2 linked regions of the Homo sapiens genome follow. The protein of the gene in region 1 purifies or fractionates together with the protein of each later gene. This does not show direct contact. Each region holds a gene or a part of one and is shown on either strand. Other genes may lie near its edges. The genes, in order: RNPC3 and USP33.

Region 1 (4,036 bases):
GCCAAGGCAAGAATAACTATCTGAAGAAGACAGTAAGAAGACAAAGGGGGAAGTAAATATATATTCAATAGAGATTGAGTTTGTAGGTTTTATAATATAGGGGTTGAGAGAGAATAGTTCAGGATATTTAGATTGAGGATTGAGTTATTTGGGTTGTTATATTAGCTGACATGAGGATCCAGAGGATGTTTGCAAAGGCATAGGATGAATTCACTTGTCATCTGTTAACTTGGAGGGGTCATTGGGCTACTTTTATGGAAATATTTAAAAATATTAATGAGAGCTGAGGCAAGGTGAAGAATGGAAAGATTCTTCAACCATGTGAATAGATATGTTTGCCCAAAGGATAATAAGCTAGGAGAGAAGAATGGGAAGGAGCAGTTAAAGTAGGAGAACTAGAAAGGAAATTATCACTGATGCAAAGAGAAGTGTGTTTTAAGAAGATGAAATCCTGTGATGATGCAAAATGAGGAATGAACACATCTATTAAAGTCTTTTTGCCATGAAACAATAGAAATGACCCAAATTCTCATCGGTAAAAGGAAGGGAAGCCTTAAATCACATTATATCCATATACTGGACTGCAACTGTCTGAGAATGATGTCAAATGGTATGTGTTAATATGGAATGATAGCCCAGATAGAGTACATGAATAAAGTTGTGAAACATTATATATGATGTAACCTCAGATTTTTTGAAACTAATAGTATACATGTTAGCATATACACAGAAAAAATATGGCAGAACTATACACCAAAATGTTAAAAACATCTTTCTCTGAGAGTAGGATTACAGAGGGCTTTCATATTATATTAATATGTACTTTTATAATGGTAGGTAATTTTTTTTCAGAAAAAAAGTATTTTTAAAAATATATCATAATACATTGTAAATAAAGTATGGTAATGAAAAACGCATTGTTTTAGGGTCAAGAATAACTTGGAGGAGAGGACATGGAGCCAGTCATTGTCTTTGGAAATGTCTGTAGTGAAAGGAAGCAGTAAGAGGTTAACGGCAATATTGATAGGGCTTTTAGGCTAGAGAGCATTTGGCCTAATTGGAAAGTGATAGATTAAGAAAACAAAGGGAGAAATGTTCAAGAATAGAGTAAGTAGCCGAGTCAGGTAGGAGGAGTTAACATTAAAAATGAAAAACCATAAATCTTTGAAAATAAGAACATATGTGATACCCATTTGAGAAGAAGAAAGTTGGAGTAAGTCAGGTTAGATGACCTTCATTTCAGATAATCAAGGCTTCACTGATAATAAAGAGGTCTAAAGTTCATTTAGGGTCTTGAAAATTATTGAAACATTTTAAAATTAACTTTGTATGATGATGTAAGGCAGGGATCCTCAAACCCTGGGACACAGACTGGTACCCAGCCACGGCCTGGTACCTAACCACCACCTGTTAGAACCTGGGCCGCACAGCAGGAGGTGACTGGCAGGCTGAGGAAGCTTTATCTCTATTCAGGGCGACTCCGCCTGGCTGCCTGAGCTCCACCTCCAGTCAGATCAGCAGTGCCTTGGCCCCTGTTGTGAACTGCACATGCAAGGGATCTAGGTTGCGCTCTCAATGAGAATCTGACTAATGCCTTATGATCCGAGATGAATCAGTTTCATCTCGAAACCATCTTCTCCCCACCCCCCACCCCAGCCTGTGGAAAAATTGTCTTGCACAAAACCGGTCTCTGGTTAAGGCTTGTACTTTCATGTGTTCAAAAATATTAAGTACCTACTATGTGCTAGATGCTGATTTAGGTTTTGGGATTATATGTGAAGACAAAGATGATTATAGTTCATATTCTCAAAAGGGGAGACAGACAATAAATAATAAACTTTAATATTTTAGAAGATGATAAATGCTATGGAAAAAGGACAAGTAGAGCAATAAGATCAGGAGTGCTAAGTGGGGAGAGGTCAGGCTGTAGTTAGGGTTATATTTGAACAACAATTTGAAGGATGCGAAGGGAGTTAGCTAATGAAATTTCTGGGAGAAGTACCTTTGAATTAGAGGAACAGCTGGAACAGGGGCTCTAGGATGTGACCATGCCTGTCACGTTGTTCAAGGAAGCCACTGTGACTGGAGCAGACATAGTGGGAGTGATCTGTGGGAGCAGGAGTGGGAGTGATCATTGGATTTGAAGTCAGAGAAGTCATAGAATCTATATTATGTAGATTATAGTAAGGAACTTAGATTGCTGTCAGTAAAATAGGGAGCCATTGGAGCAAGGGGGTGACCTTGGTATTTCAAAGAATTGCTTTTGCTGTTGTGACTAGACTGAAGGGAGGGAAAGGTAGAAACAGGGAAATCCGTTAAAATATTGTGGTAATTCAGTCCAGAATTGATGGTTGCCTTGACCACAATGGTAGTGGTTAGCGGTGATTAGATTCTTTATATATTTTGAAGGTAGAAGCAAGGATTTCTTACTGTATTTATTCCAGTAGGTTTTGGGGGAACAGGTGGTGTTTAGTTACATGAATAAGTTCTTTAGTCGTGATTTCTGAGATTTTGATGTACCTGTCACCCAAGCAATATACACTGTGCCCATTGTGAAGTCTTTTATCCCTCACCCCCACTCCCAACACTTTCTCCTGAGTCCTCAAAGTCCATTGTATCATTCTTATGCCTTTGGGTCCTCATAGCTTAGCTCCTACTTAGGAGTGAGAACATACGATGTTTGGTTTTTGATTCCTGAGTTACTTCACTTAGAATAATGGTCTCCCATTCCATCTAGGTTGCTGCAAATGCCATTATTTTGTTCCTTTTTATGACTGAGTAGTATTCCATGTTATATATATATATACCATAATTTCTTTATCCACTCATTGATTGATGGGCATTTGGGCTGGTTCCGTATTTTTGCAATTGCAAATTGTGCTGCTATAAACGTGCATGTGCAACTGTCTTTTTTGTATAATGACTTATTGTCCTCTGGGTAGATACTCAGTAGTGGGATTGCTGGATGAAATGGTAGGTCTACTTTTAGTTCTTTAAGGAATCTCCACACTATTTTTCATACTTACTGTACTAGTTTACATTACCACCAGCAGTGTGAAAGTCACTTTCACCACATATTCTGCCAACATCTATTATGTTTTGATTTTTTCATTATGACCATTATTGCAGGAGTAAGGAGGTATTGCCTCATGATTTTGGTTTGCATTTCCATGATCATTAGTGATGTTGAGCAGTTTTTCATGTTTGTTGGCCATTTGTGTATCTTATTTTGAGAATTGTCTATTCATGTCCTTAGCCCATGGGATTGTTTTTTTTCTTGCTGATTTGTTTGGATTCCTTGTAGATTCTGGACATTAGTGGTTTTTTTGGATGTATAGATTGCAAATATTTTCTCCCGCTATGGGTTGTCTGTTTGTTGATTGTTTCTTTTGCTGTGCAGAAGCTTTTTAGTTTAATTAAGTCCCATCTATTTATCTTTGTTTTTGTTGCATTTGCTTTTGGGTTCTTGGTCATGACGTCTTTGCCTAAGCCAATGTCTAGAAGGGTTTTTCTGATGTTATCTTCTAGAATTTTTATGGTTTCAGGTCTTAGATTTAAGTCCTTGATCCATCTTGAGTTGATTTTTGTATAAGGTGAGAGATGAGGATCCAGTTTCATTCTTCTACATGCGACTTGCCAATTATCCCAGCACCATTTGTTGAATAAGGTGTCTTTTCCCTACTTTATGTTTTTGTTTGCTTTCTGGAAGATCAGTTTCCTGTAAGTATTTGGGTTTATTTCTGTGTTCTCTATTCTGTTCCATTGGTCTATGTGCCTATTTTTATACCAGTACCATGCTGTTTTGATGACTATGGCCTTATGGTATAGGCAAACAGGATTTCTTAATGACTTGGATATGGAATGTAGGAAAGAAGCATTAAGGATGATTACAAGATTTTTGACCTGAATAATTGGAAGAATGGAGTTGCTATCAACTGAAATAGAGATGGCTCCTGGTGGAGCACATTTGGGGCTGGGGGAAAGATTAAGTGAAATGTTGAATTTGAAATGTTTGTTAGATATCTATGGGGCGCTA
Region 2 (3,500 bases), about 26 Mb from region 1:
GTGACCATTATTTTTGTAGCCCTTATGGTTTCTCTGAAGTGCATCTTGAACTTGGACCTGAGATGACATGGGTGCAGGTGAGATGCTATAAAGCACAAGTGAGGAAGCAGGTAGAATCAGAGAAGGAGGAAAAAAGGTTAATAGTGGAAGGCCAACTGGAGGCTGCTTAAGCCTTTGGAGATTTTTGTATAACTGCCTCAGAGTTTTGTATAACTGCCCCAAATGAAGGGGAGCTGGGTGGTTTTCCATCTACAGTCAATCCTCACTGATAAAGATTGCCTTTATCTAAAAGGCTCCCAGAACTTCCCAGGTACACTGGTTAGGTAGGGCTTGGCAAGCTCCTGAGGTGCTGGAGAGCTGAGGAGAGAAGTAGTTGAGATGGGAAGTTGTCAGTGTGTTAACTGTGCATACCAGCTACAAGTAAACATTGAAGTGAGCTGAAAGGAGATGGTCCAGGTATCAACTCTGTGTCTTAACAGGCATTCTCATTGAATAATCCAGATGTGAAATAAAAGCCTCAATTTAGATAGAGACCTAGAAGAAATGTGAGATGAAATGTGGTTAAAAAAAAAAATGCCGAATTTAGAAACTGATAGAAAGTGAGGAGGGGAGCCAGGTGCTGTGGCTTGAGCCTGTAGTCTCAGTCACTTGGGAGGCTGAAACAGGAGATTTGCTTGAGCCCAGAAGTTCAAGTCCAACCTGGGCAATATAGAGAGCCTCCCATTTCAAAAAAAGTAAATGAAAAAAGTAAGGAGGGATCTAAGATGGTACTGAGGTTTAAAAGTTAGTTAACTTGTGAAAAAGAAGGGTTGACAGAAGGACACTGACTTTCAAATTAGTTTTTTAAGGAAAGTGAAAAAATTGCATAGTATTCAGGAGAGTGATGATAAGAGTGTTGATGACCAGTCATTCAAAAGGAAAGCAGGGTGGAGACTTGAACAATGCTGCCATCCCCACAAACTTATAATGTCTGGCCCATGCTGGATTATAAGCATTTGTTAAATTAATTTCTATCCCCCAGGGCTTATCACAGTCCTGAAATACAGTAATGTGGTGAAACTATAGGGCTGAATGTGACCTAAAATAAGACCATTTCCCACAGGTTTTAACTTTTATAAAATCCTAGAAGAGGAATTTCTTATATATTTTACTTTTTTGTGAAAGGGTCTCACTCTTGCCCAGCCTGGCGTGCAGTGGTGCGATCTTGGCTCACTGCAACCTCCACCTCCTGCGTTCAAGCAGTTCTCACCACTCAGCCTCTGGAGTAGCTGAGATTACAGGCGCACGCCACCATACCCAGCTAATTTTTGTATTTTTTGGTAGAAATGGGGGTTTCACCATGTTGGCCAGGCTGGTCTCAAACTCCTGACCTCAAGTGACCCTCCCACCTTGGATTCCCAAAGTGCTGGGATTACAGGCATGAGCTGCCATGTCTGGCTGGAATTTCTTATATTTTTTATGGAAGCATTACTGTGTTTAGATGAATCAGTTTTGATTAGTTTTAAAATCAATATTATAGTCTGGTAAACAATAAAAGAATTGATAATTTTTCTTATGGTGGTTCTCATTTGAATATGGTGATAGCATTTGTTTTCTCATATTCTTTCTTTCTTTTTTCTTTTTGCTCACAAGCTGAACTGAAGATTTAGGTTTTTCCATGTTTCTATGTGGTTTACATGAATATTTTTAATGACTGTTCCGTAATGCCAGTATATTAACTCTTCATCTTGCTCAAAAGTGAGACTTAGAGTGAAAATTATCATCAGCTTATTTGAGACTCTGTTAGAACTCTGTCATATTCATTAATTCATTTCTATTTCCTCTCTCTTCCAATATTTCTCAAAATTATTTCAACGAGATAAGGCTAGAATTGACCATATTTTGCCATTCATTATTGGACAGATTTTTAAAAATCTTTATAGGAAATGCTAATTAATATTTACAAATCTCATTTAGAGGATGTTATTTGGAATGAAGATTGCCAGATTGGAGCTATACTTTGGTATTATTAATAGTGGTAATGTTAAGAATAGATTGTAGAACACATAGGTTGTAGCCAGAGAACTCAGTTAGAAGACTGCGTATTTCTTTTAATAGCCTTAAGGCTCTCATTAATTAGACTCTTAAGGATCAATGAGACAGATTTTCTAGTAAAAGAGAAATAAAAAGATTAGCACTACATTTCTTTTTCTGTGTTGTGGTTTTGAATGAAAATTAAGAATGATTAGGTAAGTATTATAGGACTTTGTGGGATCTTCAAATCCTCACAGAGGTTTGAATGATTTTATTCTCAGAATATTTGTTTAAAGGGAAAGAAACAGTTATTTAAAATGCTTGTCAGCTGATTTCTTTTGTGAAAAGTCTCCCTGAGCACTTACTATGGATTGAGAATAAAATAAACTTTTCTGCTTGTTGTTGCACTCTTCATTGATAACTTCCTTCCATTCATCAGTTTTTTTGGCTTGCTTTTATTGGGTAGCAATTTTCTTCCATGATAAATATGGAAAGATAAGCCATAAGCTTATTCCTTCATTGTATTTTTGCTAAAGTGTAATATTTCATATGGTACTGCTGGACTAGTACTCGTGGAACCATAGTCTAGATTGAAACTGTTGAAAGACAAATCAATTTTTTTATAATCATAGAATCTTAATTCAATTCTGAGTTTTTAGTGCAAAGTGCTTGCTGTCCTTTGAAGCACCTCTGACAGTTACCCAACCTCTGTGTAACAATTATGGGGAACATGCTCCTTCCATGAAAGTTCATCTGTATTTGAACCGAAGTCTTCACCGTTGATTGAATATGCTGTTCTGACTTTCTCAAGTTGCACAGAAAAGAAAGGATCCCTTTGGTCATCATGTTCAATTGGAACATGTGTATCAAGTCCTGGCATCTTTTGCCTTCTGCTGTTTAAACATCCATGCTTTCAGTTCGTAATGGTTGACATTTACTGAGTACTTACTATATCACCCTCTTCTAAGTATTTTATATATACTAATATATAATATGTAATTATATATTAACGTATTATGTGTAATTATATAATTAGTTTAAAATATTATATATTAATCTTCTCCAAAACTCTAGAAAGTAGATATTTGTAATTAGATCAGTGTTTTAGATGAGGGAGCTAAGGCAAAGAGAAGAAACTTACCACTGGTCCCAAATCTAGGAGATAGTGGAGCCTTGCTCCAGAAACTTTACTCTTAGTACAGTGCTATCTTATAAGATACAGTTTTCAAATTATTTCTTTTAAGGTTTTCTATGAGAGGCACTCTTATTCTGTAGCTTTTAGTATTCTTCTTAAATAAAATACTGTATTCCAGATATAATCTACTTATTTTATGCGAACATTAAGATTGGCTATTATTTTTTCCCCTTTTCACCACTCTATTCAATTAAAAAATTATTATTTTTTTTTTGTAAAGATGGGGGGTGGGTATCACTCTGTTGCCTAGGCTGGTCTTGAACTCTTGGCCTCAAGCGATCCTCATGCCCCT

The links.
Region 2: the proteins of RNPC3 (region 1) and USP33 purify together in Homo sapiens (co-immunoprecipitation; one large-scale study listed by IntAct). This does not show direct contact.

The regions. Positions count from the first base shown.
Region 1 is NC_000001.11:103,528,417-103,532,452, forward strand, and holds part of RNPC3 (RNA-binding region-containing protein 3), read left to right. Parts: intron 1-4,036. UniProt on the Homo sapiens protein: Participates in pre-mRNA U12-dependent splicing, performed by the minor spliceosome which removes U12-type introns. U12-type introns comprises less than 1% of all non-coding sequences. Binds to the 3'-stem-loop of m(7)G-capped U12 snRNA.
Region 2 is NC_000001.11:77,753,353-77,756,852, reverse strand, and holds part of USP33 (ubiquitin carboxyl-terminal hydrolase 33), read left to right. Parts: intron 1-3,500. UniProt on the Homo sapiens protein: Deubiquitinating enzyme involved in various processes such as centrosome duplication, cellular migration and beta-2 adrenergic receptor/ADRB2 recycling.